2 linked regions of the Homo sapiens genome follow. The protein of the gene in region 1 interacts with the protein of each later gene in a biochemical or structural test. Each region holds a gene or a part of one and is shown in the gene's direction. Other genes may lie near its edges.

Region 1 (4,134 bases):
ACAGACAGTATAGTCTTGCCTTTTCAGTGAAATCACTAATTTTTTAAATAATATTTTTACACAATCTGTGTTCCCTCAATTACACAACTTTTTGAGTAGTTTGTGGGACATTTATAGTTCTTAGAAAGTTTTTTGTCAAGTCAGTGGATCTAAATTTTGCACTGTTGAGGCAGTAGCAACTGGAATTGTCAGACTTCTTAAAACATTGTTATATTTTGTAATGAGACATGAATTTTACATATCATGTTTAAATATCATAACAGGACTCCATATGATTAAATTATAATTCTTACAAAAATGCTTTATCATGTCTCTATTACTTGTGATGTTTATCTTTTTGCCCAGCTTTTTATCTTGAAAAATGTTAAACCTACAGAAAAGCTGCTAAAATAATAGCACCCAAATCCTTTACCCTAAAGCTGCTAAAATAATAGCACCCAAATCCTTTACCCTAGATTCATCAATTGTAAATTCACACTTTTGTTCTGAATCATTTGATAGTTACTTGTAGAGATAACACTACTCCTAAATACTTCAGCATGTATCACCAGAGAACTGGGGCATTCTCCTATATAATTACAGTGTAATTTTCATACTCAGGAAACTGAGGTAAGTACAACACATTATTATCTAATGTGCAGTTTTTATACAGATTGTCCCAGTAATATTCTTTACTTCCTTATACAGAATGCAGTCAAGGATCATTCCTTGCATTTCTTTGTCAAATCTCTTTAGACTTCTTTAATCTAGAACAGTTTCCTTAACTCTGTTGCCAGCAGATGAGATTTTAAACCAGAGAGACCTGTTTGAAATCCCTGCTTTTCCCTTCTCTAGATGCATTTTTCTTAACCTGTTATTACAGTAGCCTTTTCATCTTATCCATAGTGGTGTTATGCTATGCCTGTAATATAGTGGATATCCCAATGACATGATTAACTACTTCTAACAAACAGTCTCTGTAGAAAAGTAGAGTAATTTGCCTCAACACATATATGATCATAGAATTGTAAAGAGAACCTTAAGGAAATCTGAAAGACAGTATAATCTAATTGCTTCTCGCCACGGAACTGAGATGTTTAAAAGTGAATCCCTTGCTCGTACCCAGCAAGCTAGAGAGGATGGACATCAAGGTCTCCCAATTGAGAGCCCAGTCACAACCATTATCCCCTACAGTCTTCAGCACAATGTGGGGAAATGTAAATAACCATTAGAAATGTGCTGGATAATTATGAAAGTCTTTATAACTTGTAAAAACAAAGTTCTGTTCATCTGTGATTTCATCTTAGCGAATTTTTGATAGAACAGCCTAAATTCTTTGATAGAACAGCCTAAATTTTTACTTTAAGACTTTAAATAGAGCAGTTTTAACTTGTCTAAGATTTGCAGGCAATAGAGAAATATACTGTCTGTTTCTATTACTCAGCATACCTCCTGCCTACCTGCTTGTCTTAAAAAGTGTGTGGTAAACCAGCAGATATTTAGGAAGAAACTAATAGTTGCAATCAAGAACCTATTATATCTAGATGCAGTGGCTCATGCCTGTAAATCCTGGCACTTTGGGAGGCTGAGGTGGGAGGATAGCTTGAGACTAAGGCTTCTAGACCAGCCTGGGCAACATGGTGAAACTCCATCTTAAAAAATTTTTTTTAAAAGAACCTATTATACATAGCAAATAACTTTCCCAATAACACTGCACTACAGTGTTTCTGTGGTAAGGATTTAATTGTACTTATGTTAATTGATCTTTCCTTTCTACCTTCCTGGGGTGGGTTCTCACTCTGTCACCCAGGCTGGAGTGCAATGGTACCCTCATGCTCACTGCAGCCTTGACTTCCCCAGGCTCAGGTGATCCTCTGACCTCGGCCTCCCAAGTAGCCAGGACCACAGGTGCGTGCCACCATGCCCACTTAATTTTTTGTAGAGACAGGCCTTCACCATGTTCCCTAGGCTGATCTCGAACTTCTGGGCTCGAGCAATCTGCCCGCCTCAGCCTCCCAAAGTGCTGGGATTACAGGCATGAGCCACCACACCTGGCCTGTTTTTTGAATATTCTAATTCCATTGTTACCTTGAGATAAATGAAGACATTACCAACCTGATTTACTTAAGGCAGATCCTTGAAGATCCTGCCTGAATGAACTAATGGAAGACCAGAGTTCCCTTATCTCAATGAGCTTATCTGATACAGTATCTATATCATGTGGTACCTGTAATTAGAAAAATCAAAGTCAGTCATAAACATTTAATAACCTATATCAGAATGTGATGTTTAATAACCTATATCAGAATATGATGTTTGACCGTGTCACAATATTGTTTTACCTATCCCATGCCTCTATTCCAAATGAAGGAAGTGAAGAATGCCTGGGCACTGTGGAAGGAGGGAAGGTCAGGTGTTTGGGGGATTTTGATAGGAATCAGCACTAAGCACAGACTATTTTCCTGAAAGGCAGATGTGTATGAGCTGTGGCTTGGCAGTTAAATACCACGAGGCAAGAAATTGGACTCATTAAATAAAAATTTGACTTTGGTTCAAGGTAAAAAGAGGTATTAAAAAAAAAGCTAATTGCACTGTTAATGCTTCCAGAGCTTTAGTAGATATAATTTGATAAGAAATATTTGGGAGACAAGCTTGTCAGAAAATGAACTCAGCTGCATTCTTATGCTCAGAGTCTTTCTTCTCTCTTGCTTCCCAGGGTTCTTGGGGATCTGGAAAGGATCAGTATAGCAGGGAACTGCTTGTGTCCTCCATCTTTGCAGCTGCTAGTCGCAAGAGGAAGAAGCCGAAAGAAAAAGCACAGCCTAGCAGCTCAGAAGATGAACTGGACAATGTATTTTTTAAGAAAGAAAATGTGGAACAGTGTCACAATGATACTAAAGAGGAGTCCAAAAAAGAAAGTGAGACACTGGGCAGAAAACAGAAGATCATCATTGCCAAAGAAAACAGCACTAGGAAAGACCCCAGCACGACAAAAGATGAAAAGATATCACTAGGAAAAGAGAGCACGCCTTCTGAAGAACCCTCACCACCACACAACTCAAAACACAACAAGTCACCAACTCTCAGCTGTCGCTTTGCCATCCTGAAAGAGAGCCCCAGGTCACTTCTGGCACAGAAGTCCTCCCACCTTGAAGAGACAGGCTCTGACTCTGGCACTTTGCTCAGCACGTCTTCCCAGGCCTCCCTGGCAAGGTTTTCCATGAAGAAATCAACCAGTCCAGAAACGAAACATAGCGAGTTTTTGGCCAACGTCAGCACCATCACCTCAGATTATTCCACCACATCGTCTGCTACATACTTGACTAGCCTGGACTCCAGTCGACTGAGCCCTGAGGTGCAATCCGTGGCAGAGAGCAAGGGGGACGAGGCAGATGACGAGAGAAGCGAACTCATCAGTGAAGGGCGGCCTGTGGAAACCGACAGCGAGAGCGAGTTTCCCGTGTTCCCCACAGCCTTGACTTCAGAGAGGCTTTTCCGAGGAAAACTGCAAGAAGTGACTAAGAGCAGCCGGAGAAATTCTGAAGGAAGTGAATTAAGTTGCACCGAGGGAAGTTTAACATCAAGTTTAGATAGCCGGAGACAGCTCTTCAGTTCCCATAAACTCATCGAATGTGATACTCTTTCCAGGAAAAAATCAGCTAGATTCAAGTCAGATAGTGGAAGTCTAGGAGATGCCAAGAATGAGAAAGAAGCACCTTCGTTAACTAAAGTGTTTGATGTTATGAAAAAAGGAAAGTCAACTGGGAGTTTACTGACACCCACCAGAGGCGAATCCGAAAAACAGGAACCCACATGGAAAACGAAAATAGCAGATCGGTTAAAACTGAGACCCAGAGCCCCTGCGGATGACATGTTTGGAGTAGGGAATCACAAAGTGAATGCCGAGACTGCTAAAAGGAAAAGCATCCGGCGCAGACATACACTAGGAGGGCACAGAGATGCTACCGAAATCAGCGTTTTGAATTTTTGGAAAGTGCATGAGCAGAGCGGGGAGAGAGAATCTGAACTTTCAGCTGTAAACCGGTTAAAACCAAAATGCTCAGCCCAGGACCTTTCCATCTCAGACTGGCTGGCCAGGGAACGCCTACGCACCAGTACCTCTGACCTTAGCAGAGGAGAAATCGGAGATCCCCA
Region 2 (3,500 bases), on another chromosome or scaffold:
TCAGGAGGCTAAGACAGGAGGATCACTTGAGCCCAGGAGTTCAAGTCTGTAGTGATCTATGATTGAGCCACCAAACTCCAGCCTGGGTGACAAAGCAAGACCTTGTCTCTTAAAAAAATTTTTTTTTTTCACAGATACCACTGACTTGACCTCTGAAAATACATTAGTTGGTGCAAAAGTAATTGAGGTTTTTGCCATTAAAAAGTAACGGCAGGCCGGGTGCGGTGGCTCACGCCTGTAATCCCAGCACTTTGGGAGCCGAGGCGGGCGGATCACGAGGTCAGGAGATCGAGACCATCCTGGGTAACATGGTGAAACCCCGTCTCTACTAAAAATACAAAAAATTAGCCAGGCGCGGTGGCGGGCGCCTGTAGTACCAGCTACTCGGGAGGCTGAGGCAGGAGAATGGCGTGAACCCGGGAGGCGGAGCTTGCAGTGAGCAGAGATCGTGCCACTGCACTCTGGCCTGGTGAAAGAGCAAGACTGCGTCTCAAAAAAAAAAAAAAGGGCCGGGCGCAGTGGCTCAAGCCTGTAATCCCAGCACTTTGGAAGGCCGAGGCAGGCAGATCACCTGAGGTCAGGAGTTCAAGACCAGCCTGACCAACATGGAGAAACCCCGTCTCTACTAAAAATACAAAATTAGCCGGTCATGGTGGCGCATGCCTGTAATTCCAGCTACTCAGGAGGCTGAGGCAGGAGAATTGCTTGAACCCGGGAGGCGGATTGCAGTGAGCTGAAATCGGGCCATTGCACTCCAGCCTGGGCAACAAGAGCGAAACTCCGTCTCAAAAAAAAAAAAAGTAACGGCAAAAACCATAATTACTTTTGCACCAACCTACCAATTTGTGTTTCCACCAAGACTTATGAGACTCCCTGCATCCCATGCCCTAATTGATTGATATTATCAACCTTGATAGTTTTTACTAAACTGCTAATTGAAAATAGTATACCTCAATTTCACATGTCTGTGAATGTTATGGAGGCTGAATACCTGTTCATGTTTGATGGCCATTTGTATTTCTGCCCCTACAAATTGCCTGTCCATAGTATCCTTGGCACTAGCTACGTGGGCCCTCTGGACTCAAGCCAGTGTGATCCAGCTTGGCCTTGTGCTTATCAAGTTACCTTCACTTCTTTGGGCTTTACTTTCCATGTACAAAGGTTTTGACTTATTTTAGTCATACTTGTGTACTCTGTTATCCTCTCTACTGTGTCATTTAGACTGCAAAAACTGTGCCCTGCTACTATTAGGTACCTCTCTGAGGGTAATTAAATATATTTCATTTAATTCCCCCACCTTAGGTGGTAGGTACCATTATTATCTCCATTTTTATAGATGGGGAAATGGAGGCATGGAGGCCTTAAGTGATTTGCCTGAGATTTCATAGCTATTTACTCATATTTTTTTTCATTTTTATTTAATTTTTTTTTTTTTAGACAGAGTCTTGTTCTGTCGCCCAGGCTGGAGTGCAGTGGCATGATCTCGGCTCACTGCAACCTCTGCCTCCCAGGTTTCAGCGATTCTCCTGCCTCAGCCTCCTGAGTAGCTGGGATTACAGGCGCATGCCACCATGCCCAGCTATTTTTAGTAGAGACAAGGTTTCACCGTGTTGACCAGGCTGGTTTCGAACACCTGATCTCAGGTGATCTGCCCTCCTCGGCCTTCCAAAGTGCTAGGATTACAGGCGTGAGCCATTGCGCCCGGCCCTGTTTACTCAGATTTGTTCACAGGTTTGTTACTTGATATCCAAAGCCTGAGCTCTGACACTGGGCTTACTTATCTTTATGTTGCTTGCCTTTAGGAAGTGGCTGATAGATACATATTTTTTCCCAAAATTTTATCACAATGACCTGCAAACATTCAGAAAAGTTAAAGAATTTTGCAACGAATACCCTCCATTTCCTAGATTCTACAATTAACATTTTCCTATCCTTGCTTTTACACATCTGTATCCCTTGATCCATCCATCAGGCTATGGTTTTTTTTTTTTTTCTTTCTTTCTTTTGAGACAGGGTCTTACTCTGTTACCCAGGCTGGAATGCAATGGCATGATCGTGGCTCAATGTAGCCTCGACCTCCCAGGCTCAGGTGATCTTCCCACTTTAGCCTCCCAAGTAGCTCCCACAGGCATGCACCACCACATCCAGATAATTTTTTGTATTTTGAGTAGAGACAGGGCTTTGCCATGTTGCCCAGGCTTGTCTCCGACTCCTGAGCTCAAGCGATCTGCCCGTCTCGGCCTCCCAAAGTGTTGGGATTATAGATGTGAGCCACCTTGCCCAACCTCATCAAGCTGTCTTAAAATTTTACACATCTCAAAGTAAAACGTAGACATCAGTATATTTCGCCCCAAATACTTTAACATACATATCATTCACTAGAGTTCAATATTTGTTTATAGTTCTTTTCTTTTGAGTGGATATTTACAAACAATGAATGCACAAATCTTTTTTTTTTTGAGATGGGGTCTTGCTCTGTCTCCCAGGCTAGAGTGCAGTGGCGCAATCATCTTGGCTCACTGCAACCTCCGCCTCCCAGGTTCAAGCGATTCTCCTGCCTCAGCCTCCCTAGTAGCTGGGACTACAGGTGTGTGCTGCCACGCCCGGCTAATTTTTTTTATTTTTATTAGAGACGGGGTTTCAGGATGGTCTCGATCTCTTGGCCTCATGATCCACCTGCCTTGGCCTCCCAAAGTGCTGGTATTACAGGCGTGAGCCAACGCGCCTGGCTGAACGCACAAATCTTATGTGCACCATTTGATAACTTGACAAGTGCATATACTTATCAACCCAAACCGCTATCAATATACAGGACATGAATATCACCCCAAAAAGTTCCCTCATGCGATCCCACTCCTACCCCCACCATAGGTTAGTTTTGCCTGCACTAGAACTTCATATAAAGAGAATCATACCCATATGTGCTCTTTGTCAAAGACTTCTTTCCCTCTCACTTGACATCATGATTTTGAAGTCCATCCCCATTGTGTGTATCTTTAGTTGTTTCTTTTTTCTTGCTGAGTAGTATTCCATTGCATGAATATGAGCATTGTTTATGCACTCTGATGGACAGATAGATGTATATTTGAGGTTGATGGTCATTGCCTTCGGGATGCTTACTCTCTTAAAGTGATAGAGCAGCTGAGTTGACAGATTGTACTTTCTTTTTGTTTTTGGGGATAGTAAGAGCAAGATTATTCGGGTCCATACCCTAACTTACATAGATGCCTTCCTTTTCTTAAAATTAGGAAAAACTTCTTAGAGTATGATGAGGAGAGAAACGCAGAAAAGGAGGTCAGGAAAATTATAAGGTTACCTTTACTGGAGTGGAGGGAGAGGGTAGGAGAGGAATGGGAGGCAGATGGAAACTGCAGCCCGGGATAGGGGGTAGGAAGGTAGTGGTATCAGAGCTGTTGGAGACTTTGGACCTGAGGCCAGGAGGTGCCGGAAAGTGCAAGGTCTACAAGAAGGCCATGGAGCAGCAGTCGCATTGCAGATCT

What was found. Proteins that work in one complex are often made in the same cells at the same time.
Region 2: the proteins of ARHGAP21 (region 1) and MYO18A interact in a test that uses a peptide from one of them, tested with the Homo sapiens proteins (one large-scale study listed by IntAct).

What each region holds. Positions count from the first base shown.
Region 1 is NC_000010.11:24,584,668-24,588,801, reverse strand, and holds part of ARHGAP21 (rho GTPase-activating protein 21), read left to right. Parts: intron 1-2,695; coding exon 2,696-4,134. UniProt on the Homo sapiens protein: Functions as a GTPase-activating protein (GAP) for RHOA and CDC42. Downstream partner of ARF1 which may control Golgi apparatus structure and function. Also required for CTNNA1 recruitment to adherens junctions.
Region 2 is NC_000017.11:29,170,399-29,173,898, reverse strand, and holds part of MYO18A (unconventional myosin-XVIIIa), read left to right. Parts: intron 1-3,500.